Homo sapiens: one gene and its partners. The protein of the gene in region 1 purifies or fractionates together with the protein of each later gene. This does not show direct contact. Each region holds a gene or a part of one and is shown in the gene's direction. Other genes may lie near its edges.

Region 1 (4,182 bases):
GAGAAAAAAGTATCTGCTCCCCAAAAGAAGTCATTTACTAATTAGAATGATTTATTGTGTTTTTATTTAATAATGTGCCTTTTAATGTTCCTTCTGCCAAGTTTCCACTTACAATTAGAATCTCTTTCTTTTTGTGAAAAGAATACAACTTCTCAGAATGTAAGCAAGCGGCCCATGCAGCAAATGCAGCCCACTGCGCCAAGGAACAGCAATTTGCGTGAATTACCCATAGCGCCGTCACACGTGATAGAAATGAGCAGCAGCCGCTGCTCTGCCACGCCCTCAGCACAAGTGAAACCTATCGTCAGCGCGTCACCACCCTCGCGGGCCGTGGCGGGTTCCAGAAGCTCACAGGGAAAGACGGAAGTGAAAGTCAAGCCAGCTAGCCCTGTGGCTCAACCTAAAGAAGAGGCAAAAACAGAAACAGAGGTAGGACACTGCTCTTATTAACAAATGTTGGTCTCAAACAAGAAGCCTTAGAATCAACTTGGATGTCTTAGTTCACTCTCACTAAGTTATTCACAAAATCTTCCCACTTTTTTCACCTGGGTCTTTTTTTTTTTTTAACCTAACAGCCATGTTTATTAAAAAAACACTTGTATTCTCACTAGTTTACAAGATTAGAGTTTATATATTTGTACAGTTACTGTTCTGTTATACAGAATTGATATATACCGGGGCTTAACAAACTTTTTCTGTAAAGGGCCCAAATATTTTATAAATATTTTAGACTTTATAGTCCAGACTGTCATAATTACCCTTCTCCGCCATTTTAGCACAAAGGCAATTTAAATATAGTTCTTCCATGAATAGATGTGACTGCGTTCCGGTAAAACTTTACTTTATAAAACCAGGTGGTGGACCGGACTCAGCCTGTGGGGTGTCATGTGCTGACACCTGGTGAATCCCGTAGGTTTCTGTGACTTTTCTTGATTTACACTATTAACCTCTAGAAGATAGGACCAATTTTCTTGTTGGTCTTTTAAGATTTCTGGGGGTTTGCTTTGTGTTGAAGTATGATGATATATGTTGTTGCTGTTGTTCCTAATTTTTCAGTAGGCACAGAATGTAGTGAGTGTGAACAATCAATGCAGCTCAGTCTTTACCTGGCTTTAGTTGAGGCCGTCTTCTCCCACAAGCCTCAGTCTCCTCATCTGGTAAAGGAGGGTCGGCCAGGGCGGCCTGTGCAGAAGGCTGGCACCTGGAGGGCGTGTCAGCCTTAGTGAAATGCATGTGGAGTGCTCTGAAGCAGTGCAGCGAGTTAACTTGTCCAATAGCAATGTCATGAAGAATGGCTTTAGAGAAGAATTTAGGCAAGTCATGCTTTCTTAGTTTCATAAAAACCAGTCAACACTGGTTTTACCTTTTAATCAGTTCATTTTTTTCAGTTAGATTTTCTTCTGATATATTATTGTAGCAGTTGTAATGTATTGTTTACCAAATTGGAAGTACAAAGTTGAAATATTAACATACAATGAACTCTTATTAGAACACGAGTGACTTTTGGTTTTAAAATCAATATGTGAAAAAATAATGTAGATTTACAAACTGGATCGGAATAGTTTAGAAAGAAGTCTTTGGTAAAAGTTTTATCATACTTCTAGTGTATATAGCCAGCTCCTAACTCAGTATGTGTAACTGATTTGGTTCAGAAAAATGAAGTCACACATTCATAATAACAGGGCTACCTAATAGGGGAAGTTGCCTTTCAGGCATCCTGCTGGCACATCTGGCGATCACTTCCTTCCATGATAGTTGATTTAGGCGAACTTCTAAAGGATTCTTCCATGGAGTTATTTCAAAAAGATGCCTTGAGTGAAATGGAACCTGTAGGTCACCGTAGTATAAATGGAATGTCTTGATTTATTTTCTTTTAATTTTCTCTCTCTATATAAAGGGGACCAGGATTATATATATTTTTTTACTTTTTAGAAGAAAGATCTTCTATTTGTTTTGCTTAGCTAAATGTGACTTATTTTCGTATGTTCACCCCTCTTGATGATGATATAATAAAGGGTGAATCTGCTTATTTGGAGGTCTTTTCAAGTATTTCAGCTGCTGTTCTGAACATGCTTTAACTCTTCCTTGACTGCATGGGAAATTCCGATGACTAGTAATTATTCCTGTGTTTTGAGGCAGTGGCCCCTTGGGTCCTGTGAATATGTCCCCAGCCGTCTGCTTCCCCGATGCCCATGTCCCTTGTGCCCACTATCCCCCTGGACGCCATGTCTTGCTCTGTATGCCTACCCTTGTAAACAGCCTCTCACCCACCTTCATTTTTGCAGTTTGAAATCTGCCCTAGATGTGATATTAGAGAACAGAGGTGGTCGGAATTGCTTCCAGGACGACAAGTAATCCCTGAGTGAGGGCTGGCACCGGGCACTCAAGCTCCAGGGCACCAGCCGACTCCTCAGCTGTGCTTTTGTCTTAAGTTCCTAATTCTTAAGGTTTATTTAGGGAAAGTAAGATGGTGAAATAGCTGAATTCTAGATAGATTAAATCCTGTTACATTATTTTACACGGAGTCTGTGGATATGGATGATTTTTAAAGAATATTATTACAATTCTTTAAAAATGCTTAACTTTTTATACATTTTCCCTATTGGATGCTTTTTATTGAAAGTTACTGGAGTTTTTCAAAGATTTTTTTGTATCGACTTGAAGAATGGTTTGGAACTTGGAATATTAAAGGCGTTCCTTATATACCATTAATATTCCAATACTGCAATCGGCAACATTTTGATTCTGAGGAGAGTGCATGAGTTCAAGGTCAGAGAGATTGACTTGTGCTGTTCATTATAACCAATTATTCTGTGACAAATGAGTTTGAGATCAGGCTGAAAATTCTGCACGAAAAATCAATAGTTCTAATCAGAGCCTTTCAGGTCATTTACACCCCACCTTTTGTTGGTTTGTCAGAGAAGAGCCAGATAAAACCTGTGTGACAGCAGGCCTCCCTACTGCTGCCATTCCTGTTTGAAACATATTTTGATATCTTAAATGAATAGTTTAATTGGTTTCAAACTTGTAAATGAGTGGAAATTTACATTATTTCATTTTTAATATTCTGATAAGATTTTCCAAATTAGCTTTAGCTGTGTGGTTTTTTTCCCCCTCCCCAGAGGAAGGAGTTATACTTAAAGTCTTCAAACAGATTTTGAGTGACTTCTTTCAGATACTGAATTAAAGGACTTGTGGTAAATGTGTTCTTGTAATTTGTTGAAATAGACTATGGGCACCTTGCCTGTATAGCAAAGTAAACCGTGTATGTTTTCCATTTTAGTTTCCTGATGAAGATGAGGAAACAAGGTTATATCGCTTAAAGATAGAAGAACAGAAACGCCTAAGAGAAGAAATCCTGAAACAGAAGGAGTTACGGCGGCAGCAGCAGGCTGGTGCCAGGAAGAAGGAGCTGCTGGAGAGACTCGCGCAGCAACAGCAGCAGCTGTACGCTCCCCCACCCCCAGCAGAGCAGGAAGAGCAGGCACTGTCACCATCACCCACCAACGGTAACCCACTGTTGCCCTTTCCAGGTGCACAGGTCAGACAAAATGTGAAGAACAGACTTCTTGTTAAAAACCAGGATGTCAGTATTTCAAACGTTCAGCCCAAAACATCCAATTTTGTACCATCCAGTGCCAACATGCAGTATCAAGGACAACAGATGAAAGCACTGAAACATTTGAGACAGACCAGAACAGTTCCTCAAAGTCAGACTCAGCCGCTGCATAAAGTGCTCCCGATCAAACCTGCAGATGTGGAGGAGCCAGCTGTCCCCCAGACTCCTCGAGTGGCGTCCATCCAGGGCCGGCCCCAGGACACAAAGCCTGGCGTGAAAAGGACTGTCACGCACAGGACAAACAGTGGTGGTGGAGACGGGCCCCACATCAGCTCCAAGGTCAGGGTGATTAAGCTGTCAGGTGGGGTAAGTTGACAAGTTTTATGAGAGCCTCTTTGAGTCTGTGTATCACATAGAATGTCCTCATTTGCAGAGAATGTTTTTGAAGAAAGAATTAAAAGTTACCTCTGTTATAGTCTTGTAACCAATCTCTACCTACTTGAAGTTGGTATAAGAATTGCCGCTTGACGACAGGCATACATTCTCAGAAATGTGTTGTTAGGCGATTTTGTCATTGTCTGAACGTGCTAGAATGTACTTCCATACACAGACGGTACAGCCTG
Region 2 (2,878 bases), on another chromosome or scaffold:
GTGCTCAGAATCCTCCAAGAAGAGGGAAACAGGGAGCAAATAAACAGACCAAGAAGCAGCAGCAGAGACAACCAGAGGCCAGCATAGGGTCCATGGTATCCAGGGTAGACGCTGAAGAGGTAAGAACGTCCTGTTGCCTGAATCGGGCTGGGTACTCACTGGTCACCTGAGACTTGCTATTGATAGAGAATAAAATGCCTGCTGCGTACTGTTTTCTGCCTTGGCACTGACTAAGAGAAGGTACCAAACAGGAAGCCAAGGGGCTGGGGTGTGGCTTTAGTGGACAGTGACTTGGCAGCTAGTCTCTTCCTACCCTTCCAGTCCATCGTTGCTTTTGGGTTTCTAGGCATTGGTGGATCTGCAGCTACACACAGAAGCCCAGGCTCAAATTGTGCAGAGCTGGAAAGAGCTGGCCGACTTCACATGCGCATTCACAAAGGCTGTGGCTGAGGCGCCCTTCAAGTGAGTAACCCCAGCAAGTCCAGCCTCCATGCTGGGCCTGTCCTTTACCATGGCTCTTGCAGTCAAAGCAAATGTCCCTTTCCCCTCATCTCTGCAGTCAGCCCATTGTCTCTCAAGCTTGAGGCAGAAGGAGCTGACCTCACACTGGGGATTCTTGGGAAGAGTCCTCAAGCCTAGCGCCTTTTCAAATATTCTCCTTTCGCCTATATGTAAGTATGTGTTCTGCAGGCTGATATCATAGGCCAGGTTACCATAGGCCAAGTTACCAGGATTAATTACAGGTCAGATCACAATGTAATAAGCACTAGGAAAGCAAATTTTTGGCCTACTCAGTTCAAGAAGTGTTCACTGTCAGAATTTAAAATAAGTAAATGACCTCAGAGACAATCCAGTCCAAGTCCCTTATTTTATACTTGAGGGGACTGAGGCCTGAAGAGATTGACTTGTCTAAGCTCCTAGCAGTTAGAAGAACCAGAAATAGATTGCAGATTGCCAGATATCCAAAGAATCTGGTATCTTTTCTTCTACTATAATGGACTAGATGTAGTTTTTAAATGAATCAGCAACTGGCCCTATACCTGGCAACAAAGTGAGCACTCAAATTGTCAAAGGCACAAAAAGGCCAGATGTAACATGGCGCCCACCTCTTCCAAGGTCAGTGGGGGGGTTTTCAGTTGCCACTTGAGGGGAACAGGTGTAGAAGAGTAATGAGCAACTTACAGCTCTCCAACCACGCTGTTGCAGGAAGCTCCGAGATGAAACTACCTTCTCCTTCTGTCTGGAGAGTGACTGGGCTGGAGGGGTGAAGGTGGACCTTGCTGGCAGGGGACTCGCACTAGTCTGGAGGAGACAGATTCAGCAGCTGAACCGAGTCAGCCTGGAAATGGCCAGTGCAGTTGTGAATGCCTATCCCTCCCCACAGCTCCTGGTACAGGTATGCTGCTCCAGGGCTCAGGGGTCACTGCCCATTGCCTGCGGGCTCAGTGGGCCCCCAGATTTCCATGGACAACTGTTGAGGGCCCACAAAGGCCTCACAGGTCAGCAGTGCAGGTCTACTAAGATCAGTGTTGCTAATGCTGACCCAGGGAGGGAGGACAGGTTCTCATGCCCCAAGCCAAGCGTAGCACCCTCCATGCTCATGGAGAAGGGATCACCATGGATGGTACCATATTAAGAGGTCATCTACCACTTCCAGGCTTATCAGCAGTGTTTTTCGGATAAAGAACGCCAGAATTTGCTCGCAGACATACAGGTGCGCCGTGGGGAAGGTGTGACATCCACTTCTCGCCGCATTGGACCAGAACTATCCAGGCGTATCTACCTTCAGATGACCACTTTACAGCCACATCTCTCTTTAGATAGTGCTGACTGATTCTAGCCCTCAGGGATGAGGATGAAAAGCTGGAAACTTCCACTTCCCCAACCTCAGAGCCTGACTGTAATGAAGAGACTGGCAGCACCTCCTGGAACACAAGCCTAGGTGAGGCCCAGTCTTTCTTGGGTCTTATTATTTGTGAAGGTCTCTCTGCCTGTCGGCTGGGGCAGAGACTGAAATACTGCCACCTACCTTTGGCATTTAATGTTCCTCTCCTGGCAAAAATTCACTGCCACAGACAAACCACCCCCACTCCTACCCAGCCAGCCCTCAAAACACAAAGGAACAAAGACAGTCCACTCAGACACTTATTTAATAACTGTAGAAATCCAAAAGAATTAGCATCAAATCTTGAAGTCGTGAGTGAAGCTGCGGGTTGGCTTGACTGGGCTCAGCCACTGAGCTGCCTCAACCGGCCAAGGAACGGGATTATGATGACTATGCGGACTTCTATATTGTCTTCATCTCATTGTGTGTATTATGTATTTAGTTTCAATAAAGCATTTGTACCAATGGCTCTGGAGCTTGGAGGAAGACTAAAGGAATGTGTAGTGATTCTGAGTAAGATGTAGACCTACGCAGCAGAGCTATGGGGGAGAAGATTAACAAAGTCCTTTCTTCCAATATCAGGATAGTCATGAGTTGCAGTCCCATCCAAAAGGTCATTAGGGCTAAAAGGCCCTCTGTGTCTCTGAACTATGAGATTCTTGCTCCCTCCGGGGGAGCCAAGGAGCTTGCAACTGGGAGTTTGCAGTGAATGAGCACCATGACACAGTCATTTCTGATCCCTCTATCCAGCTGTTGTGAAAAGATGAAGCAAAGGAGGCAAGAAAATGCTTAATTTAGCAGACAAGAGAATGGACAGTGTGATCCTTGTTTGTGCTAGCCATTGGGTGATGCACCACTTTTCAGCTCCATGATGCTACTTGTTTCCCTTCATATCCTGTTTCCATTTATGCCCTTCAGTTATGGTCTAGAATCAAACAATTCTAAACCTCAGTGTCTTATGAAGCTGACACTTCAAAACCTGCAGAAGCAGGT
Region 3 (4,182 bases), on another chromosome or scaffold:
GTGATTCATCTTAATAACATGAGCTGTGGTGGTCTAACGATAAATCTTACAGGAATCTGCATGAACATTTTTTTTACATGGCCTTAGTCTCTCTTCTTGTTCATTTAAAGTAGGTCAAATCAAGCCAGTTTTCTTTGTTGTTGTTAACATATCATAGCTTTATTCAGTAACGGAGTAGAATTTTTAATACAGAGAAAATGAAGTACCTGAGAATGATAAATAAGTTTACCACCCAGTTAACCACTGTTACTACTTCATAAAAAAAGTACTACATGTCAGTAAATTCAAGAAGAAATGCACAATATGAAAAATGAAAACCTTCCCCTCTTTACCTTCCGTAATAATTCCTCTCCCAGAATGATTTTTAATGCCTCTAAAAGGTAAAAGTATCTTCTCTGGAGCCTGACTCCTGAGTTTGAGTTCCATTTCTATTCCTTACTTCCTGTGACATTTAATTTTTGGCAAGATGCTTTTTCATTGGTAAAATAGGGATAAGAATATCTATAATGAGGCCGGGCAAGGTGGCTCACGCCTGTAATCCCAGCACTTGGGGAGGCCGAGGCGGGTAGGTCACGAGGTCAGGCGTTCAAGACCATCCTGGCTAACACGGTGAAACCCCGTCTCTACTAAAAATACAAAAGAATTAGCTGGGCGTGGTAGCGGGCGCCTGTAGTCCCAGCTACTTGGGAGGCTGAGGCAGTAGAGTGGCATGAACCTGGGAGGCGGAGCTTGCAGTGAGCCGAGATAGCGCCACGCACTCCAGCCTGGGCAACAGTGCAAGACTCTGTCTAAAAAAAAAAAAAATCTATAATGCTGTTGTGTAGATTAAGTGTGTTTATATGTGAAAAGCATCTAAAGCAGTCCTTAGCATATTTAAGTGTTACGTATCTGCTGGCTAGTATACCAGTGGGTATATATGCTTGAAAATTTTATACAGTCATTTACACACTGGTCTGTATTCAACTTCTGTGTACCCATAAAATTTTTTTTAAGTGATATAGTAGGTGCGTATATTTATGGGGTACATGAGATATTTTGATACATGCATACAATGCAAAATAATCACAGCAGGGTAGATAGGATATCCATTGTCTTCAAGCATTTATCATTTGTTATAAACATTCTAGTTATGCTCTTTTAGTTGGTATAAAATGTGCAATAAATTATTGTTGACTATAATCATCCTATTGTGCTATCAAATACTAGATCCTATTCACTCTATGTTTTTGTACTAATTAAGCATCCCCGCCCCTCCCCTGCCACCACACACCCCACAGCTCTTCCCAGCCTCTCGTAACCATCTCTATTTTCTACCTCCATGAGTTCAGTTGTTTCAATTTTTAGCTTATCATGGAGCTCTTTTGAATATAAATCTACCTTATTCTTTTATATCAGTGTGTATAGTCTATTAATTTTTTAGACAGATCCTCTATTGGCATTTAGTTTGTTTTCAGTTTTTTACTCTTCCAAACAGTGTTACAATGGAGATATTTGCATAGATATATTCGCGTACTTGTGGGAATAATTTCTAAAAGATAAGTCAAAAGGTATATGTGTCTTTAATTTTGGTATATCTTGCTGTAATGCCTTAGTAGCTAGCTGTTTTCCCCACTATAATCCTGTCTGAAATTGTTATCCCTTCCTGTGGCTTTCAGTTTGGTACCTACCAAATTTTTTGCCAAACTGCATTTAGAAAGGAAATGCTAATCCTCACTGGTAGATCACAGGATTACTAGTTCACAAAGGCAGGTGAGATTGCAGCCTTCCCTCAAAGGGAACCACATTTGACCTGCAATTTAGCCTTAGCAAGGAGTTACATAACAATGATGCTATTGCCTCTGGTTGTCAAGCCTTGACCTGTCTCTGAAGTTGTTTTGTAATCAAGGTTTTAATGGCAAATATAGGGAAAGAACAATTATGAATTTTGAAAACGTTAGTCTGGGTTTATGAGAAACTCCCTTTTATGCTAAAATGAGAGCACAGCTAAAATGGCTGTGTCATCTGACCAGAGGCCTAGAAATCTAGAGTTGCTCTAGTAACTGTAAAGGAGTCATTTCTTCCTGCCTCTATGTTTATGAAACATAGAGTTTTAAGATCTAAGGACTTTTTGAGGCTTATTTGGTGTCTTGAATAATTTTATATTTCTTCTGGCTATATGTTGGCATATATGTATCCCATTTTGCAAGTAAATATTTACATTTCAGCATAAATGTGTCATTACTGATTTTAAACTGATTTTGAAAGATATTTTGTATGTGCAATTATGGTATAACGAAATCCAGTAGGAAGTCATAAGTTCTAGAATTGTGATAATAGTCTACTGTTAAACCAATCCTGTTTTTTTATGTTTTCAGTGGTTAACATTTAGGCATATTGGATATGAGGCATTTTGATGAGCAAATATGTATCTCATGCCCCTGCCTCATAGACAGTATACTCTAGACAATGTGTGGTCATATTACTCACTAATTAATACGTGAAGTTAATTGCTGCCTCCTTTTCTTTCTTTTTTTTTTTTTTGAGACGGAGTCTCGCTCTGTCGCCCAGGCTGGAGTGCAGTGGCGGGATCTCGGCTCACTGCAAGCTCCGCCTCCCGGGTTCACGCCATTCTCCTGCCTCAGCCTCCCAAGTAGCTGGGACTACAGGCGCCCGCCACTACGCCCGGCTAATTTTTTGTATTTTTAGTAGAGACGGGGTTTCAGCGTTTTAGCCGGGATGGTCTCGATCTCCTGACCTCGTGATCCGCCCGCCTCGGCCTCACAAAGTGCTGGGATTACAGGCGTGAGCCACCGCGCCCGGCCCTCCTTTTCTTGACTCAGATTCACACTCCACAGTCTTTCCAGGAGCTAGATGGATGGTATTATCCAGCCATTGTCCTACAAGCCTAAAGCCAGGTGGAAAACCACCATCCTCACAGCAGGTGTCAAGTATTTTGGTTTAGAAACTCTTTCCAGATGATGTTCATCCTCATAGTAAAGAAAGTAATTATGACAAGGAGTGATGTTGATAACATAAAAAAAATAACAAAAAATCTGCTAAGCCATCTTTACTGTTTTTACAGGATAGACCAAAGCCCAGCAGAATTACTAATATAAGCATTCAAACTGCTTACAGAGGGTTTCAAGCATGATAATTTGTGAAGTCAACATGTATAGTAAACAAAACATATTTTAAGTGTGTTCATTATGGAGCTAATTGATAAGATGTCATTAAAAATAATAATGCTCATGGCATTTGTGTTAGGAACTATCAGCAGCAGTCCATCTTTAAATTTAAAAAGAACAGAGGCTATTCTCAAACTGAGAGCTTACCTTTTTGTTTTATTCTGTTTCTGTTGGAGCTGTGCTCTGTACTTTATACATGTTATTTCAATAATTCTTGTCCACAGAGTTTTCTAGGCAGCAACTCTCTGTGCACAATTTCAGCTAGAAACGCCATGACCTTCCCAGTAAATTTGAGACAGAAGCAAATTTGTAAGGAATCCTAACTGGGCAAAACTTGATATGCATAAATGCCTAATATGTATCTACATAGATATATCTATAGATAAATCTTCAACATTTACTCTGACTTTTATAGGATGATACAAGTTGTGGATTAAATTTTTTTTTTTTTTTTTTGAGACGGAGTCTCGCTTTGTCACCCAGCCTGGAGTGCAGTGGCGCGACCTTGGCTCACTGCAAGCTCCACCTCCCGGGTTCACGCCATTCTCCTGCCTCAGCTTCCCGAATAGCTGGGACTACAGGCGCCCGCCACTATGCCCGGCTAATTTTTTGTATTTTCAGTACAGACAGGGTTTCACCGCGTTAGCCAGGATGGTCTCGATCTCCTGACCTCGTGATCCTCCCGCCTTGGCCTCCCAAAGTGCTGGGATTACAGGCGTGAGCCATAGTGCCCGGCCGTGAATTAAATTTAACATAAACATAAGGATAACATATTTTTTGTTTTCGTACTATAGACAGACATTGTGCTCCTTTGTATACTTTTATTTCCCTTAAGTTTCCCAATATTTCTATAAAGTAGATAGTTTTATTCCCATTTTACAGATGAAATCAGATGTTGGTCTTACGTGAATATACACACATGCACACACAGTAAACATTGGGTCCAGTTTTTGTTTTGTTTCGTTTTTCTGGTCTAGGCAGTTGGCTGTGAGGTGTGCTTAGACTAAAGAGGGAGAGG
Region 4 (4,182 bases), on another chromosome or scaffold:
TCTATGTGAATAGACAAGTTCTGTGAACAAGAAAGAGGGAAACGCAGAAGGGCAAAGACAGCTTTGAGGAACATGGAGCAGGGATGAGAAAAATCAGAGGAGCCACTAAAGGAGAAAGGGAAGCACTAGGCGAAAAGCGGGGCGGAGAGCCAGCAGGTGAGCAGCTCTGTGACTGCCCCTCCTGGATGGCCTGTAATCTAGGGCCAGAAGAGTTTTATTTTCAGGTTCAAAGAGAAAGGACCCATTTCCCCATCTTAACCCTCTTTTTTATTTTTTTGAGATGGAGTTTTGCTCTTCTTGCCCAGGCTGGAGTGCAATGGCGCGATCTTGGCTCACTGCAACCTTTGCCTCCCAGGTTCAAGCGATTCTCCTGCCTCAGCCTCCTGAGTATCTGGGACACAGGGATGCGCCACCATGCCCGACTAATTTTGTATTTTTAGTAGAGACGGGGTTTCTCCATGTTGGTCAGGCTGGTCTTGAACTCCTGACCTCAGGTGATCTGCCCGCCTTGGCCTCCCAAAGTGCTGAGATTACAGGCGTGAGCCACCATGCCCAGCCTCCCATCTTAACCCTCTTAACCCTTCAGTGTTTACATGATATCCAGCTTTTGCCTCATCCTGCCTCCCACAGATGTCCAGACCAAGATAGAACCTGTCTCTCCATGTTCTTCCGTCAACTCTGAGGCCTCCCTGCTCTCAGCCGACTCCTCCAGCCAGGTGAGCACCACCTTCCTTCCTTCCTCCAGGTTTTCCAGTGAGTTCCTCCTGACCTAGAGGTATGAGAGCTTTCCCTTCTTCAGCTCCTTCTCCTCGACACTCTTCCTGACTAATGTATCTCTGGAATGCCCCACATAGGCTTTTATAGGAGAGGAGGTCCTGGAAGTGAAGACAGAGTCCCTGTCCCCTTCAGGATGCCTCCTGTGGGATGTCCCAGCCCCCTCACTTGGAGCTGTCCAGATCAGCATGGGCCCATCCCTTGATGGCTCCTCAGGTAATGGAGTCTCCTGACACTTGGAATCCCTAGTGAGAGGCCTTTGGTCCTGACATTTCTTGTTCTTTTCTCTCACCTTCCTTCAGGCAAAGCCCTGCCCACCCGGAAGCCGCCACTGCAGCCCAAACCTGTAGTGCTAACCACTGTCCCAATGCCATCCAGAGCTGTGCCTCCCAGCACCACAGTCCTTCTGCAGTCCCTCGTCCAGCCACCCCCAGGTACTGAAGAAGGAGAAAAGGGCCGGGCATGGTGGCTCACGCCGGTAATCCCAGCACTTTGGGAGGCTGAGGCGGGCGAATCACCTGAGGTCAGAAGTTTAAGACCAGCCTGGCCAACGTGGTGAAACCTTGTCTCTACTAAAAATACAAAAATTAGCGTGGAGTGGTGGCAGGCGCCTGTAATCCCAGCTCCTCGGGAGGCTGAGGCAGGAGAATCACTTGAACCCAGGAGGCGGAGGTTGCAGTGAGCCGAGATCATGCCACTGCACTCCAGCCTGGGCGACAAAGCGAGACTTTGTCTCAAAAAAAAAAAAAAGAAAAAAGAAAAACCAAAAAATAAAAATAAAAATTAATTAATTAATTAAAAAAAAAAGGCCAGGCACAGTGGCTCACGCCTGTAATCCCAGCACTTTGGCAGGCCAAGGCAGGCGGATCACAAGGTCAGGAGATCGAGACCATCCTGACTAACACAGTGAAACCCCGTCTCTACTAAAAATACAAAAAAATTAGCCAGGCGTGGTGGCGTGCGTCTGTAGTTCCAGCTGCTGGGGAGGCTGAGGCAGGAGAATGGCGTGAACCCGGGAGGCGGAGCTTGCAGTGAGCCGAGATCGCACCACTGCACTCCAGCCTGGTCGACAGAGCAAGACTGCATCTCAAAAAAGAAAAAAAGGAGAAAAGGAGGCGGGCTGCATTGACCCTGTCAGAGAGCTTGCAGCCATTGAGGCTGCCCAATCCTTGGGTGCTCTTGTGTGGGTGTGGACACAAGGACCCCACCCAGCGCACAGCCCTCTGACCTCTGCTCACTTGCCCCAGTGTCCCCAGTTGTCCTCATCCAGGGTGCTATTCGAGTCCAGCCTGAAGGGCCGGCTCCCTCTCTACCACGGCCTGAGAGGAAGAGCATCGTTCCCGCTCCTATGCCTGGAAACTCCTGCCCGCCTGAAGTGGATGTAAGTGTTGGGGAGGAGAGAAGTAGGGCGAGTGATGGGAAGGGAAGAGGGAAGTCTTGCCATAGAGAGAACTGTGGGATGAGGAGGGAGTCGATACCTAGGAGAAAAAAGTGAGGAAACGGACCCATTAGATCATTCTGAGGGTCAGAATGGACTCCTGTTTCTATATGAATATCAACTCCAGGTAGTTTTAGGGTCCTTTAGGTTTGCTGTCACTGCAGATGGAGAAATGGGGTTGGTCTCCATAAATTAAAGGCAAGGAAGTCGTACTGTACTATACGACTACGGTCATGGCCATAGTTGGGGAGGGAGGCTGCCTCCTAGGGGAAAATCAGGTAAACTGTATAAGCAGTATAACAAGGTTAAACTTTGAACCCTACAAATGTGGGCTGACAGGAAGAAAGAGTTACGAAGGAAAGAGTTTCCACCAGCATGGAGAAAGTTCTTCCCACACTCTAACCTTTCCCACCTCTGAGGAGCAGTAGCAGGGAATGTTTGAAAGAAGGGCCCCTTCCCTAGCGTGTTTGAGTAGAGAGGAAAAACCTCTCTGGCTATGTAGGTGGGTCAGGAAGGCAGGGGAATGGCCATGTGAGCTTTGGGTAAATCATTCCTTGGGGTTTGAGAGCATAGTCTCCTTCTGCCAACTCATCTGTCATTCTTTTTTGACCTTCCGGGTGCCTAGGCAAAGCTGCTGAAGCGGCAGCAGCGAATGATCAAGAACCGGGAGTCAGCCTGCCAGTCCCGGAGAAAGAAGAAAGAGTATCTGCAGGGACTGGAGGCTCGGCTGCAAGCAGTACTGGCTGACAACCAGCAGCTCCGCCGAGAGAATGCTGCCCTCCGGCGGCGGCTGGAGGCCCTGCTGGCTGAAGTAAGACCAGTCTGTCCCTGGGAGACCAACAGGAATACAGCCTCCTTGGAATGATTCCCCTTTTTCTTGTCTCCTTCTTTGTACCTTAGAACAGCGAGCTCAAGTTAGGGTCTGGAAACAGGAAGGTGGTCTGCATCATGGTCTTCCTTCTCTTCATTGCCTTCAACTTTGGACCTGTCAGGTGAGACCTTCCTTGCTTCACTAGAACCTTCCAGGTGGAGCCCACGTTACAGCCTCCTAGCTGCCTGCTTTGGCCCAGGCCATTTCCTTCTGCTTATATACAAATGGTTCTGGTGTCCTTGGCACCGATGATGTGTCTGGCCAGCCCCTTCCTGCTCCATTATTTGTCTTTTTTTCTTGGAGATGGAGCCTTGTTCTGTTGCCCAGGCTGGAGTGCAGTGGCACGATCTCGGCTCACTGCAACCTCTGCTTCCTGGGTTCAAGTGATTCTCCTGCCTCAACCTCCCAAGTAGCTGGGACTACAGGCGCACGCCACCATGCCCGGCTAATTTTTTGTATTTTTTAGTAGAGACAGGGTTTCACTGTTGTTGCCCAGGCTGGTCTCGAACTCCTGAGCTCAGGCAGTCTGCCCACCTCAGCCTCCCAAAGTGCTAGGATTACAGGCTTGAGCCACCTCGCCCGGCCTCCTGCTCCATTATTTTTCCAGTGGAGAGTAGATGATGGTGATAATGCTGGTAGAAATAGTGACTATTAAGTGCTTACTGAGTTCTAGGCTCTAGGTGATGCACTGTCTTTTTTGTATGTAGGGACCATCCTTATTCCCATCTTACAGAGGCAGACTCAGGCTTGTATAACAGATTGCAACTCAAGCAGTCCATCTGCAGAGTCTTTATTCTTACCTAGATACTTGATACAGCTGAAATTCTTCATTGTGCTCAGTCCTTCTTTATCCACAGCATCAGTGAGCCTCCTTCAGCTCCCATCTCTCCTCGGATGAACAAGGGGGAGCCTCAACCCCGGAGACACTTGCTGGGGTTCTCAGAGCAAGAGCCAGTTCAGGGAGTTGAACCTCTCCAGGGGTCCTCCCAGGGCCCTAAGGAGCCCCAGCCCAGCCCCACAGACCAGCCCAGTTTCAGGTGAGGAGAGAGAGAGAGGGCCCCCTCTCGTTTGAGGGTATGAGTTGGTCTTCTCCCCGCTT
Region 5 (4,182 bases), on another chromosome or scaffold:
CTAAGAAGGGTCAGACATCAGTTTGAAAAGAGCACCTATCAGAGCAACATGAATTCTGCTAAAGTTGAAGCAAGAACAAATATCGAATTTATGGTGAAGCTTGGTGGAAGAATAGTGAAATCATTGATGCTTTATGAAAAGTTTATGGAGACAATGTCCCCAAAGAAATCAACAGTTTACAAATGGATCACTCATTTTAAGAAGGGACAAGACAACGTCAAAGCCCATTGCAGCAGATCAATTTGCGAGGAAAAATTTAATCTTGTTTATGCCCTAAATGAAGAAGACCGATGATTAATAGCAGAAACAATAGCCAACATCATCGATATCTCAGTTGGTTCAGCTTATTCAATTCCGACTGAAAAATTGAAGTTTAACAAACTTCCTACTGATGAGTGTCAAAACCATTGCACTCAGATTAGCTGCAGACAAGAACAGAGCTTTCAGTGGAAATTGTAAACAAGTGGGATCAAGATCCTGAAGCATGTCTTTGAAGAATGGGAACAGGAGGTGAAACATGGCTTTAGCAGTGCAATTCTGAAGACAAAACACAGTCAAAGCAATGGCTGCCAGGAAGTGAAAAGGGCCCAGTCCAAGCAAAAAGAGACCAGTTAAGAGGAAGGGCTATGGCAGTTTTTTGGGATGCTCAAGACATTTTGCTGGTTGACATTCTGGAGGGCTAAAGAATAATGTCTGCTTATTATGAGCTTGTTTTGAGAAAGTTGGCCAAAGATTGAGCAGGAAAACGCCTAGGAAAGCATCACCAGAGTTCTCCACCGCCACAGTGCTCCTGCTCATTCCTCTCATCAAACAGGGACAATTTTTTAAGAGTTTTGATGAGGAATCATTAGGCATCCACCTTAAAGTCCTTATTTGGGCCCTTCTGATTTCTTTTTGTTGCCTAATCTTAAAAAACATCTTTAAAGGGCACCCACATTTCTTTGGTTAATAGTATAAAAAAGACTGCATTGACATGGTTAAGTTCCCAGGACCCTCAGTTGTTCAGAGATGACTGGTATCATTACCTGCAAAAGTGTCTTGACCTTGATGGAGCTTATGTTGATAAATAAAGTTTATATTTTTTATTCTTTATCTTTTTATTCCATTTTTCCATGAACTTATTGAAGCCCCTTCGTAGATCACCTATTGAGGTTATATCTGGGGCATGCTGGGGTGTGCACTATATCGTATTTGTAGTCAGAATACTTGATGCTGTAGCGCTCAGCATTTATTGAATGAAATTCTGCTATAATATTTGAGCGAATATTTGTTTTTCGACAATGCATTTTCTTTGGATTTCTTACAGAAAAATGTCCATTCCACAAGGTTTGTGACATATTTCTGTGAGCAGGTTCTCCCTAACCTCGGTACCTTGACTACCCCAGTGGAAGGTCTTGATATACAGTTGGAGGTAAGCAAAAATTTCAGCTTTAGCACTGATAAGGCATTCTTATATTTTAACAAAAATGTAAACCACTAACTTAGATCCGATTTCTAAGGGAGCAGTTTAAATGTCTGGTAATGGCCAGCCAGTAATCTCCCTAGACCAGAATTAATTGCATTAGGACTGCTTCATGGATTCAATTAAAGTTTGCTGCAATGGGAAAGCCTTACCTGTAGTTTTATTATAGTCAGTCTCTACTTTTGTAGCCTTAATATTTTTAAATAAGGTGTTTAATTCATTCATTTCTATCCATAACTGACAGAGCCAATTTTAAACTGGATTAACACAAAATATCCTTTATTCCTTCTTCAATAGAATTCACTACCCCTCCCAACTTTGTATCTCAACTGTAATGTATGTAAACATTTTTTCACAGCATCTGTAATACTTTACATTTGTTTATAATCTCTCCCTACATTTAATCTGATTCACCTCTGTATCCCCAGAATCTGGCACAAAACTTGATTTTGAATCAAGCACCCAATAGTGATTATTGAATTGGACTGAAATATGGAAATGCGTGTGCCATTTCCCTCATGGGTCTTTGGGATAGAGAAGAATCTCACTGTGCACTGACAAGGTAGTTTGCTTCAAATGTGCTGGGCTAGGCCCATCAGACTGGGATTGGGAAATGCAGGAATGAACCTTGAGAATAGTGGTCATTACCAATATTTTGAGTAAGTATCCAGAGACTAAATTTAACAGGAAATGAGGCCCACCTTAACCATGAGTAATTAGTTCTTAGCTGTTGAGAGTTCTTACTAAGTGTGTCTTTATAGTTAATATATTTATCATTTTTGCCTTGCAATTAGCACAATCATTAACCTGTAGCAGAAAGTGTCGTATGTATTATTTTCCATACTTCTTCTCACAGATATATTGGAAATCATGGGATCTGGGTTTTAGGGTCTGCCCTGCCACTTACACCCTGTGACTTTGTCGAGTCACATAATCTCTGACCTTTACTTTCCTTCACAGTAAAATGTTGGGCTGCATCTATCTCTAAGGTTTTCTTCCATTTCAAATGTTATGATTCTGTGAAAACATAATTGAAAATAAAGTCTTAAATCGTTATCTAGAATTACTCTCATTTCATAACCCTTGCTTATTCAAAAAAACAGTAATAGTGAATTGTGTGTTTTAGGTATTGAAATTGTTGGCGGAGATGAGTTCATTTTGTGGTGACATGGAAAAACTAGAAACAAATTTAAGGAAACTATTTGATAAGTTATTGGTAAGAACTTTTTCCTTTCCTTATGGGATAGTCAGTATATAGCTCAAAGTCTAATTTATTATTAATTTCTAGATTACAAGAACCAGTTTTTGAAATTTCAATTAAACAATAATCCTAATAAGTATTGTTAGCTTCCTAGGCCACATGTTGTTGTCTACTTTGTTTTAATCTTGGTGTTTCTTATAATTAGGGAGAAAATAGGCCATCTGATAAAATCATTATCAGCATCACTGAGTGATTTTCTTATTTGATGTATTTGTATAACTAACACAGTGATAAGCATTAGGTCCTTAGCATGAATTGAGTCATCAACATCTGGCACTCGTCCAGATGTAACTTACTGGGTTGTTATAGCACTGATACTGAATGCCATTGGCAGTACTTCACTTGTAATGAGTCAGTACTTAAACAATATGGACTTACGTTCAGAAAATATTTTTGTAGTAAGCATAGTATAGTTGTTAAGAGCATCAGCATTTGATGTCAAATCTAGATTGAATTCTGACTCTTTAGTTTATTAACTTTGTTACCATGGGAAGGTTACCCTAACTCTCAGAGCATCAGTGCCTTTATCTGTAAGTGCCTAATAAATGATAGCTACATTAATCTTCATTATTAATAATAGCAGCTGTAACAGCAGCTGTAACAGGTTAATATGGAGCGTTGACAGGCTAGAGCATTGATCCAGTAAGTAAAAAAGAAATCCAAATGTCTGGTTTTGGTAGTTTTTAATGCTCCATGCCTTAAAAACATGCACTGTAATTCCCTGAATATCTGTTTATAATTTGAATATGTAGAACAGATTGCAAAATCTGTATATTTTTCTCTCTTAGGAATACATGCCCCTCCCTCCAGAAGAGGCAGAAAATGGAGAGAATGCTGGTAATGAAGAACCCAAGCTACAGTTCAGTTATGTGGAATGTTTGTTGTACAGTTTTCACCAGTTGGGCCGAAAACTTCCAGATTTCTTAACAGCCAAACTGAATGCAGAAAAGCTCAAAGATTTCAAAATCAGGTGATATATGATTGAGGTGGCTCAATCCTTGGCAAAGGTGGTAGCTATCCTGAAGTTCCTTGGGTTTTGCTTTTGTTCTATGAGAGCTCCCCATCCTGCCTTACCCCAGTGATACAGATTGGAGGGTTCAGAAAATGGGCATGTTTGTAAACATATGACAGAAATGAGCCAGGCATGGTGGCTCACGTCTGTAATCCCAGCACTTTGGGAGGCCAAGGCAGGAGGGTTGCTTGACACCAGGAGTTTGAGACCAGCTGGGCAACATAGTAAGATCCTGTCTCTATAAAAAATAACTTTAAAAAAATTAGCGGAGTGTGGTAACACACCAGTAGTCCCAGCTACTTGCAACACTGAGATGGGAGGCTCACTTGAGCCCAGGAGCTCGAGGTTACGGTCAGCTGCAGTCATGCCTCCGCACTCCTGTCTGGGCGATGAGATCATGTCTCTGAAAAAAGAAACAGTAAAAGTAAAATTTAAAAAAAATTAAAA
Region 6 (4,182 bases), on another chromosome or scaffold:
TACGAGTGACTTCTGTCCGGAAACCTGCAGTCAATATAAAGCAAGGTAAGAAGAGGCTAGATTGGTGCCTCTTATAGCACTGTTGAAACTACCTTTGAAATTTAGTTCACAATCATTGACCTCCCTCTTCTTTTTCCCATGCTACACGCATACTTACCTATACTTAGTTTCTGTTGATCATTTATTCAAAAATAAATGCCTGCTATGTACAGATAAAATACAAAGATGAAAAGGCTCCCGTTCCTCATAAAATTTCTATTTGAATTTTCAGGTGAATGTTTGAATTTTGGAATAAAAACTCTTGAGGAAATTAAGTCAAAGAAAATGAAGGAAAAATCTAAGAAGCAAGGTGGTAAGTCATCACGTTTTGGCATGGATAGTTGTATGTTGCTAGGGAAGAATACTAAGGACGCTTCTAGAAGCAACAGCCAAAATGAGCAAATAGATTTTCATTTCCATGGCCTGTTTGAAGTAAAACACAGACTTATTTAAATTGTGGTTGCTTTTAATTCACTGCAGCTGTGTTTCAGTCCCTAACTTTTCAGAGCTGGGTACAATAAAGAATCTGAAAGAACTTGTATATCTTGAAAAATATAGCTCTGAAGAACATCATATAAGAACTATATTAATTCTGTAAGTTCTTATAGTGGTTAAAAAGAAATTATATTAAGAGAGGAAAGGCTGGGCGTGGTGGCTCACGCCTGTAATCCCAGCACTTTGGGAGGCCGAGGAGGGCGAATCATGAGGTTGGGAGATCCAGACCATCCTGGCCAACATGGTGAAACCCCGTCTCTACTAAAACAAAAAATTAGCCAGGCGGGGTGGCATGCACCTGTAGTCCCAGCTACTCGGGAGGCTGAGGCATGAGAATTGCTTGAACCCAGGAGGCAGAGGTTGCAGTGAGCTGAGATCGCACCATTGTATTCCAGCCTGGCGACAGATCAAGACTCTGTCTCAAAAAAGAAAAAAAAGGAAAAACGTCATTTTCTAGTAGAAGAGTTCTTCCTCAAGAGCTGCTAGGATTTTCTTCTGGAGCTTACGTCAGCCTGATTGCTCTGTATTTCCAACCCCCAATTTTTTTTTTTTTTTTTTTTTTTTTTTTTTTTTTTTTTGAGACAGAGTTTTGCTTTTGTTGCCAGGCTGGAGTGCAATGGCGCAATCTTTGCTCACCACAACCTCCACCTCCCAGTTCAAGCTATTCTGCTGCCTCAGCCTCCTGAGTAGCTGGGATTACAGGCATGCGCCACCACGCCTGGGTAATTTTGTATTTTTGGTAAAGACAGGGTTTCTCCATGTTGGTTGGGCTGGTCTCGAACTCCCAACCTCAGGTAATCCACTGCGCCCAGCCCCCAGCCTTAAAATTTATAGTGTGAAGTGTAGTATATATAGAGAGAAATGGTTCTAAAAACCTTCTTTTAAGGCTTGCTTTATAGCAACCTTGGAGTTGTGTTTTCAGATGATTAAATAGAATAGGTTGGATTGATACACCTGATGGCTAGTGTACCTCTGAGGTTAATTTTAGAATAATACTAGCTTTATTGGTAAATATTAGCCTTATTGGTAAATAAAAGTAGTTTGGGTGCCTAAGTCACTCAAAATAATTTTATATTTTGTTTTCACATCATGCCCAAGGCTCCCCTCACCACTACTCCATTTGACTGTAGGCAAACAGATACAGAAAGGCTGATTGGCTTATAGTCATAATATCAGTCTGTATTGGACTTAACTGGTTACAAAAACAAATTTTTTGACTTGGGATAGCATTATTTTCCATAAATTATTTGCTGTTCTTTGACTTGCCTTATTCAGAGGGTTCTTCAGGAGTTTCCAGTCTTTTACTCCACCCTGAGCCCGTTCCAGGTCCTGAAAAAGAAAATGTCAGGACTGTGGTGAGGACAGTAACTCTCTCCACCAAACAAGGTAAGGTATAGATAGGTCTTAGAGTTGTCAAGCCTCTACTTTTATATAATTGGGAATGCAAAATCCTTGGGTATCTTTTACCTTTGATGAATTTTCAGGAATTTGTTAGTATGCTGATGAGATAATCTAAAGATGAAAAGTTGGTACATTCAACTCTAATATTTAAAAGGTTGAAATTCTTTGTCAAGCAGCCCTCACATATATTTTTCCATTTACTGTTTATATCCACTCAATACATTTATTGGCTTCCCATGTGACTAAAGAATAATAGGTATATATAATAAAGTTTTTTATTTATTTCTTTGAGACAGAGTTGCACTCCTGTTGCCTAGGCTGGAGTGCAATGGCATGATCTCAGCTCACCGCAGCCTCCGTCTTCTGGGTTCAAGCAATTTTCGTGTCTCGGCCTCCCAAGTAGTTGGGATTATAGGCATGTGCCACCAAGCCCGGCTGATTTTTTTGTATTTTTAGTAGAGACGGGGTTTCTCCATGTTGGTCTGGCTGGTCTCAAACTCCCGACCTCAGGTGATCCGCCCGCCTTGGCCTCCCGAAGTGCTGGGATTACAGGTGTGAGCCACCGTTCTTGGCCATTAATTTTTTTTTTTTTTAGATGGAGTCTTGCTCTGTCGCCCAGGCTAAAGTGCAATGGTGCGATCTCCACTCACTGCAACCTCCGCCTCCCAGGTTCAAGTGATTCTCCTGCTTCAGCCTCCCCAGTAGCTGGGATTATAGGCACCCGCCACCACGCCTGGCTAATTTTTGTATTTTTGGTAGAAACGGGGTTTCACCATGTTGGCCACACTGGTCTTGAACTGCTGGCCTCAAATCATCTGCCTGCCTCAGCCTCCCAAATTGCTGGGATTATAGGTGTTAGCCACCACACCCGGCCTGTAACGAAGTATTTTCACTTAATAATTTTAAGCCTAATAAGGAATTATAGATATAGATATATTTAAATGTTTGTGCAATTCAAACAACAAAGAATTAGAAGAAAGAGAGCTCACTTCTTCCTGAGGTGATCAGAGATAGTTATATTGGACAGTTAACATCGGAGTAGAGTACAGTTTCATTCAACATATCAAAGTGCATAAGCAAAAGGATAGTTTCAGCTTTATAACCAATTGGTTAAGAATACAATCTGTCTTATACTCGACTGCTATTAATAATTAGTACTATTCTAGGCTGTGCGCAGTGGCTTACATGTATAATCCCAGCACTTTGGGAGGCTGAGGCGGGCGGATCGCTTGAGGCCAGGAGTTCAAGACCAGCCTGGCCAACATGGTGAAACCCTGTCTCTACTAAAAATACAAAAATTAGGCTGGGTGTGGTGGCTCACGCCTGTAATCCCGGCACTTTGGGAGGCCGAGGCGGGCAGATCACAAGGTCAGAAATTCGAGACCAGCCCGACCAACGCGGTGAAACCTTGTCTCTACTAAAAATACAAAATTTAGCTGGGCATGGTGGTGCACGCCTGTAATCCCAGCTACTCAGGCTGAGGCAGGAGAATCGCTTGAACCCGGGAGGTGGAGGTTGCAGTGAGCCGAGATCGGGCCACTGCACTCTAGCCTGGGCGACAGAGTGAGACTCTGTCTCAAAAAAAAAAAAAAAAAAAACACCAGGTGTGGTAGTGTGCGCAGTAGTCCCAGCTACTTGGGAGGCTGAGACAGGAGAATTGCTTGAACCCAGGAGGTGGAAGTTGCAATGAGCCAAGATGGCACCACTGCACTCCAGCCTGAGTGACAGAGCAAGAGTCTATTATTATTATCAAAATAATAATAATAATTAGTACTATGCTATTGCTTCTGTTTAGGCTGTATGTTTGGCTGTTTATTATTAATAGGTTTGGGTTTTTTTTTTTTTTTTTTGATATAATGGCCTTCCTTAAGACTGAGACCTGATTTTCAAGAGACTTTCTGGGTGGATTTACACTAATATCAGAACATACTTTGTACCCATTAGTAGTTACTGAATACAGAAAAATTGACTAAGGATAGAGAAATTCTGCTTTTGCCATTTCAGGAGAAGAACCCTTGGTTAGATTGAGTCTTACTGAGAGACTGGGGAAACGAAAATTTTCAGCAGGTAAGATAAGTTTTGTGTATATCTTTTCTTTTCTACTTGTTTGTGCATTAACATGATAGCTTCTCCAAACTCTTTTTATACAGATCTTTGTTATTGGTGCCCCTGTATTGGCTGAAAGCACTTATAAATTCCTCATGTTTTCATGAGTGCATTATACCTTTTATTGAAGATACAGAGATT
Region 7 (4,182 bases), on another chromosome or scaffold:
TGGATCATTACCATATTTGGAGCTGTGTTTTGTCTTGTTTAGATACTGTTCTTCATGCAGGTGTCTGTGCCACACTGTTTTAATTGCTTTTGCTTTATAATATCTTATAGGGCTGGTCTTTTCTTCATTCTTCTTAATCAGAGCATTCCTAGTATTTTCCCATGTTTGTTCTTCTAGCTAAAGCTTCGGATCATTTTGGCAAATTCCAAAAAATGTCTTGTTGGACAGCTTTTGGTTGTGATTGCATTGGATTTATAATTTAATCTAGAGGACTAATGACAAAACAACTTTCAGCCATTGTGGCTAACATTTTATCATGTCCTGGAACGTCTTGGACATAGTCTAATGCTCCACCTCATGTACGCCCATCTGAATGACACAATGCCCAGGCTTTGGCTTACTTTGGCTCCCTTTGTGCAGGTGACATCTGAGTGCATAGCACCTACAACTTGCCAGCCCTGAAACAGCTGTCATAAGAATCTCACTTGTACTCACAACAGTTCTTCAGCTTAGATCATTGTCCTGTGTTACCTAATCAGGCTCAGAAAGATGAATTAGTGACCACAAAGTTAAACAACTAGTACATGGTGGCTGAGATTTAAGCCAGATCTTTGTGACTCCAAAGCTTATTTCCCTTTCACTCACTTGTGTTATTTCCCAACCCCTTTGTAATTAAAACCCTTCTGACTGGATACAGTTACTTCATTTACCAAAAGTCAAGGGGGTTTATTTTATTGCCTGAAGTTATGCATTTTGTTCATCTTAAATATAGTCTTTAGAAGTCTCACATGACCCTATTAATCACATTTCTATTCTGAAGTCACGATACACGGTGGTTCCTCTGCTTCCCAGACACTTGGCTATTTCTTTAAATTGCCAAGCCCATTGGGAGGAAACTTTAATTTCCTTAGAATTCCTCTATGTTTAGAGGTGGCTCATGCCTGTAATCCCAGCACTTTGGGAGGCTGAGGTGGGCAGATTGCTTGAGGTTAGGAGTTTGAGACCAGGCTGGCCAACATGGTGAAACCCCATCTCTACCAAAAAATACAAAAGTTAGCTGGGCATGGTGGCATGCACCTGTAATCCCAGCTACTCGGGAGGCTGAAGTAGGAGAATCGCTTGAACCCAGGAGGCGGAGGTTGCAGTGAGCTGTTATCATGCCACTGCACTCCAGCCTGGGTGACAGAGTGAGACCCTGTCTCCAAAAAAAAAAAGGAATTCTTCTGTGTTCAAAGTTTAAAACGGGCTACTATTCTAAAACTTGGTGATTTACAACAACCATTTTATTTTGCTTGTAATTTGTGGAGTCAGGAATTAGGGAAGGGCAGTTCTCATTTGGGGTCTCTCATGCAGGGTCAGCAAGATGGTAGCTGGGGCTGGAATCCTCTAAAGCCTTCTTCCTCGAATGTCTGGCAGCTGGGCTGCCTGACTCAAATGGCTGGGTGATGGAACTGCTAGAGCAAGCTGGCACCTCTTTCCACTTTCTTAGCAGCCTTTTCATGTGTGCTGCTGTGAGCTTCCTGAGAGCGTGGTGGCCTCAGAGTAGTTGGCTTCTTCCCTGTCAGTTCAAGGCTCCAAGAGCGAGTGTTTCCAGAGACCAAGGTGGAAGCTGCAAGGCCTATTATGACCTAACCTTGGAAGTCACATCGTGTCCCTTCCTCTGTCCTCTGTTGGTCAGAGCAGTCACAGAGCCTGCCCGAATTCAAAGAGAGAGAGCAGATACACCTCCGCCTCTCAGTGGAGGATTGCCAAAGAATTTGTGCCTGTCTTTTAAGTTGTTACAAGAAGATTTTTCTCTCCGTTAATTTATGAATTCCATGCAATCACAAAGGACTAGTAGAATTTTCTTCTTTAAATTCATGATAAGTCAGAAAAAAATGAGAACAACGACATGAGAGAATCTGGTGTATAATAAAGTCTGGGGCAAAGAGAGATTATTTAATAAGAGGTGTTGGGTTGGCCAGGTTAGAGTTAAACTTGAATCCTACCTTGCTTCTTATTTTAAAGTAAGTTCTGAGTGGATCACAGTTTGGAATGTAAAAAGCGAAACCATTAAGTTCTAGAAGAACACATGGATTAACTATCTTGCAGTGGGGAAGGTATTCTTATGTGAAGGGAAAAAAATGTTACAGAAGTCGTTAAAGGAAAAGTTAGAGAAGTTTGATTTCAAAAGATTAAAAACCCTTATTAAAGATGTTCAGCTTTACCCACAACTAAGCAGCTAAGGCAGTGAGATAGTGTTTTATTCCATATTGGCATACATGAAAATTTAAGACCCAAAGTTGGTACAGTTGTAGGAAAATAGGCTCTGTCAATAACTATTCAGCTTTTTTGGAAAGCATTTTGGCAGTAACAATCAGATTTTATTTCTTTTTTTGTTTTGTTTTGTTTAAGAGATGGGGTCTCCCTATGTTGCCCAGGCTGGTCTCAAACTCCTGGGCTCAAGTGACCTTCCCACCTTGGCCTCCCAAAGTGCTGGGATTATAAGCATGAGCCACTGCACCTGGCCAGTCAGGTTTTAAAATGCATGTATCTTTGGATACAGCAGTCCCTTGCACAAGGATGTTCATCATGGCATCACTTATTTACAAACTGGAAACAATGAAAAATACCTCTTGATAGGAAATTGGTAAAATAAATTATGCTACATCCAACTTAGTGAATACCCTGCACCCACTGAAAACAGTGAGGTGGAACAGATGAACTTATGTAATGAGCGCCCAGACATCTGACTGTTTTGTTTTTAGTGACTGTCTTTGGAGAGAAGGACTAGATCTGAATGAGGAAGATATATACACACATGCACTTTTTTGAACCCACAGATGCAGAATATATTGTATGGATGCACATAACTTTTTTCCAACATTTTATTATGAAAATGTTCAAAATATAGGAAAGTTGAAAGATTTGTACATTGAACACCCATAGACCTACCATCTAAATTCTACAATTAGTATTATTACATTGCCTTATCACTATTTAGCCATCTGTTGGTCTGTATTATTGTGTTTGATGCACTTAAAAGTAAATTGCAAACGTCTTTACATTTCACCCCATGTCAGCATTATATCATTAGAGTTCAGTAGTTGTTGGGTTTTTTTTTCCCCCTTAAAGTAGATAATTTTTTAATCTGTCAAGGGAAAAGTTTCAGGAAACCTTTTCTTTGCTTGAAAGAGCTCAGTATAGGAGAGCGCAGTACAGCATGATAGAACTAGATGAGATCAGGATCTGGAGTCCCATGAACGAACGCCCGCCTATTTGAATCCTGGGTCTGCCCCTTAATACTGGCGGTACCTGGCCCAAGTTCCTTTACCCTTCTGAGCCAGCATGTTTCATCCATGAAAAGGGCTAGGATTGTTGTGAGGATTTAAGAAGACATAAAGTAACCAGCACAGAGTAGGTGTTCAGCAAATTGGAGATCACTTCTCAAACTACTGCGTGGCATGTGGGTGGCCCATAAGACGTGACTGAAACCTCTGAAATGGTCTTTCCCTTCAGAGCACTCTGCTATTTGGTCCTGAAGCAGTACACAGAAGCAGTGAAGGACTGCACAGAAGCCCTCAAGCTGGATGGAAAGAACGTGAAGGCATTCTACAGACGGGCTCAAGCCCACAAAGCACTCAAGGTAAAAAAAAATCCTGGCCAAAAGGTCCCAACATAGCTACAGAGATTTATGCCAGTGTCACCATTTACAGGGTGTAGCCAAGCTGAGACAATATCTGCAGCTTTTCCTTCTCATCCTGGGCCCAGGATAACTCAGAGCAGGCCTGTGGGCTGGGGTTTGAAAACACTTTGCTGCCTCAGCAGCTATCCCCACCCCAGTCCGGGAACCTTCCCCCACACTCCTGTCTTTTCTTCTATTAGGACTATAAATCCAGCTTTGCAGACATCAGCAACCTCCTACAGATTGAGCCTAGGAATGGTCCTGCACAGAAGTTGCGGCAGGAAGTGAAGCAGAACCTACACTAAAAACCCAACAGGGCAACTGGAACCCCTGCCTGACCTTACCCAGAGAAGCCATGGGCCACCTGCTCTGTGCCCGCTCCTGAAACCCAGCATGCCCCAAGTGAGCTCTGAAGCCCCCTCCTCAATCCCTTGATGGCCTCCCACCCTGTAAGAGGCTTTGCTTGTTCAAATTAAACTCAGTGTAGTCAAACACAGACATGGTTGTTGCACCAGAAA

The links.
Region 2: the proteins of RBM33 (region 1) and EME1 purify together in Homo sapiens (affinity purification with mass spectrometry; 3 studies listed by BioGRID and IntAct, with this or other methods). This does not show direct contact.
Region 3: the proteins of RBM33 (region 1) and THOC7 purify together in Homo sapiens (affinity purification with mass spectrometry; 2 studies listed by BioGRID and IntAct, with this or other methods). This does not show direct contact.
Region 4: the proteins of RBM33 (region 1) and ATF6B purify together in Homo sapiens (affinity purification with mass spectrometry, with the first as the bait; one large-scale study listed by BioGRID). This does not show direct contact.
Region 5: the proteins of RBM33 (region 1) and API5 purify together in Homo sapiens (affinity purification with mass spectrometry; one large-scale study listed by BioGRID and IntAct). This does not show direct contact.
Region 6: the proteins of RBM33 (region 1) and ZC3H11A purify together in Homo sapiens (affinity purification with mass spectrometry; one large-scale study listed by BioGRID and IntAct). This does not show direct contact.
Region 7: the proteins of RBM33 (region 1) and TOMM34 fractionate together in Homo sapiens (co-fractionation; one large-scale study listed by BioGRID). This does not show direct contact.

Annotation. Positions count from the first base shown.
Region 1 is NC_000007.14:155,741,678-155,745,859, forward strand, and holds part of RBM33 (RNA-binding protein 33), read left to right. Parts: intron 1-141; coding exon 142-429; intron 430-3,283; coding exon 3,284-3,925; intron 3,926-4,182. UniProt on the Homo sapiens protein: RNA reader protein, which recognizes and binds specific RNAs, thereby regulating RNA metabolic processes, such as mRNA export, mRNA stability and/or translation.
Region 2 is NC_000017.11:50,379,106-50,381,983, forward strand, and holds the end of EME1 (structure-specific endonuclease subunit EME1), read left to right. Parts: coding exon of another isoform or gene 1-1; coding exon 2-119; intron 120-346; coding exon 347-462; intron 463-559; coding exon of another isoform or gene 560-584; exon of another isoform or gene 585-1,206; coding exon 1,207-1,396; intron 1,397-1,657; coding exon 1,658-1,834; 3' UTR 1,835-2,378; downstream 2,379-2,878. UniProt on the Homo sapiens protein: Non-catalytic subunit of the structure-specific, heterodimeric DNA endonuclease MUS81-EME1 which is involved in the maintenance of genome stability. In the complex, EME1 is required for DNA cleavage, participating in DNA recognition and bending.
Region 3 is NC_000003.12:63,853,346-63,857,527, reverse strand, and holds part of THOC7 (THO complex subunit 7), read left to right. Parts: intron 1-4,182. UniProt on the Homo sapiens protein: Component of the THO subcomplex of the TREX complex which is thought to couple mRNA transcription, processing and nuclear export, and which specifically associates with spliced mRNA and not with unspliced pre-mRNA.
Region 4 is NC_000006.12:32,117,797-32,121,978, reverse strand, and holds part of ATF6B (cyclic AMP-dependent transcription factor ATF-6 beta), read left to right. Parts: intron 1-630; coding exon 631-716; intron 717-854; coding exon 855-990; intron 991-1,076; coding exon 1,077-1,208; intron 1,209-2,021; coding exon 2,022-2,155; intron 2,156-2,837; coding exon 2,838-3,023; intron 3,024-3,112; coding exon 3,113-3,204; intron 3,205-3,940; coding exon 3,941-4,120; intron 4,121-4,182.
Region 5 is NC_000011.10:43,325,201-43,329,382, forward strand, and holds part of API5 (apoptosis inhibitor 5), read left to right. Parts: intron 1-1,306; coding exon 1,307-1,411; intron 1,412-2,588; coding exon 2,589-2,678; intron 2,679-3,511; coding exon 3,512-3,693; intron 3,694-4,182. UniProt on the Homo sapiens protein: Antiapoptotic factor that may have a role in protein assembly. Negatively regulates ACIN1. By binding to ACIN1, it suppresses ACIN1 cleavage from CASP3 and ACIN1-mediated DNA fragmentation. Also known to efficiently suppress E2F1-induced apoptosis.
Region 6 is NC_000001.11:203,829,852-203,834,033, forward strand, and holds part of ZC3H11A (zinc finger CCCH domain-containing protein 11A), read left to right. Parts: coding exon 1-45; intron 46-271; coding exon 272-352; intron 353-1,809; coding exon 1,810-1,920; intron 1,921-3,939; coding exon 3,940-4,002; intron 4,003-4,182. UniProt on the Homo sapiens protein: Through its association with TREX complex components, may participate in the export and post-transcriptional coordination of selected mRNA transcripts, including those required to maintain the metabolic processes in embryonic cells.
Region 7 is NC_000020.11:44,942,896-44,947,077, reverse strand, and holds part of TOMM34 (mitochondrial import receptor subunit TOM34), read left to right. Parts: intron 1-3,498; coding exon 3,499-3,625; exon of another isoform or gene 3,626-3,626; intron 3,627-3,864; coding exon 3,865-3,969; 3' UTR 3,970-4,182. UniProt on the Homo sapiens protein: Plays a role in the import of cytosolically synthesized preproteins into mitochondria. Binds the mature portion of precursor proteins. Interacts with cellular components, and possesses weak ATPase activity.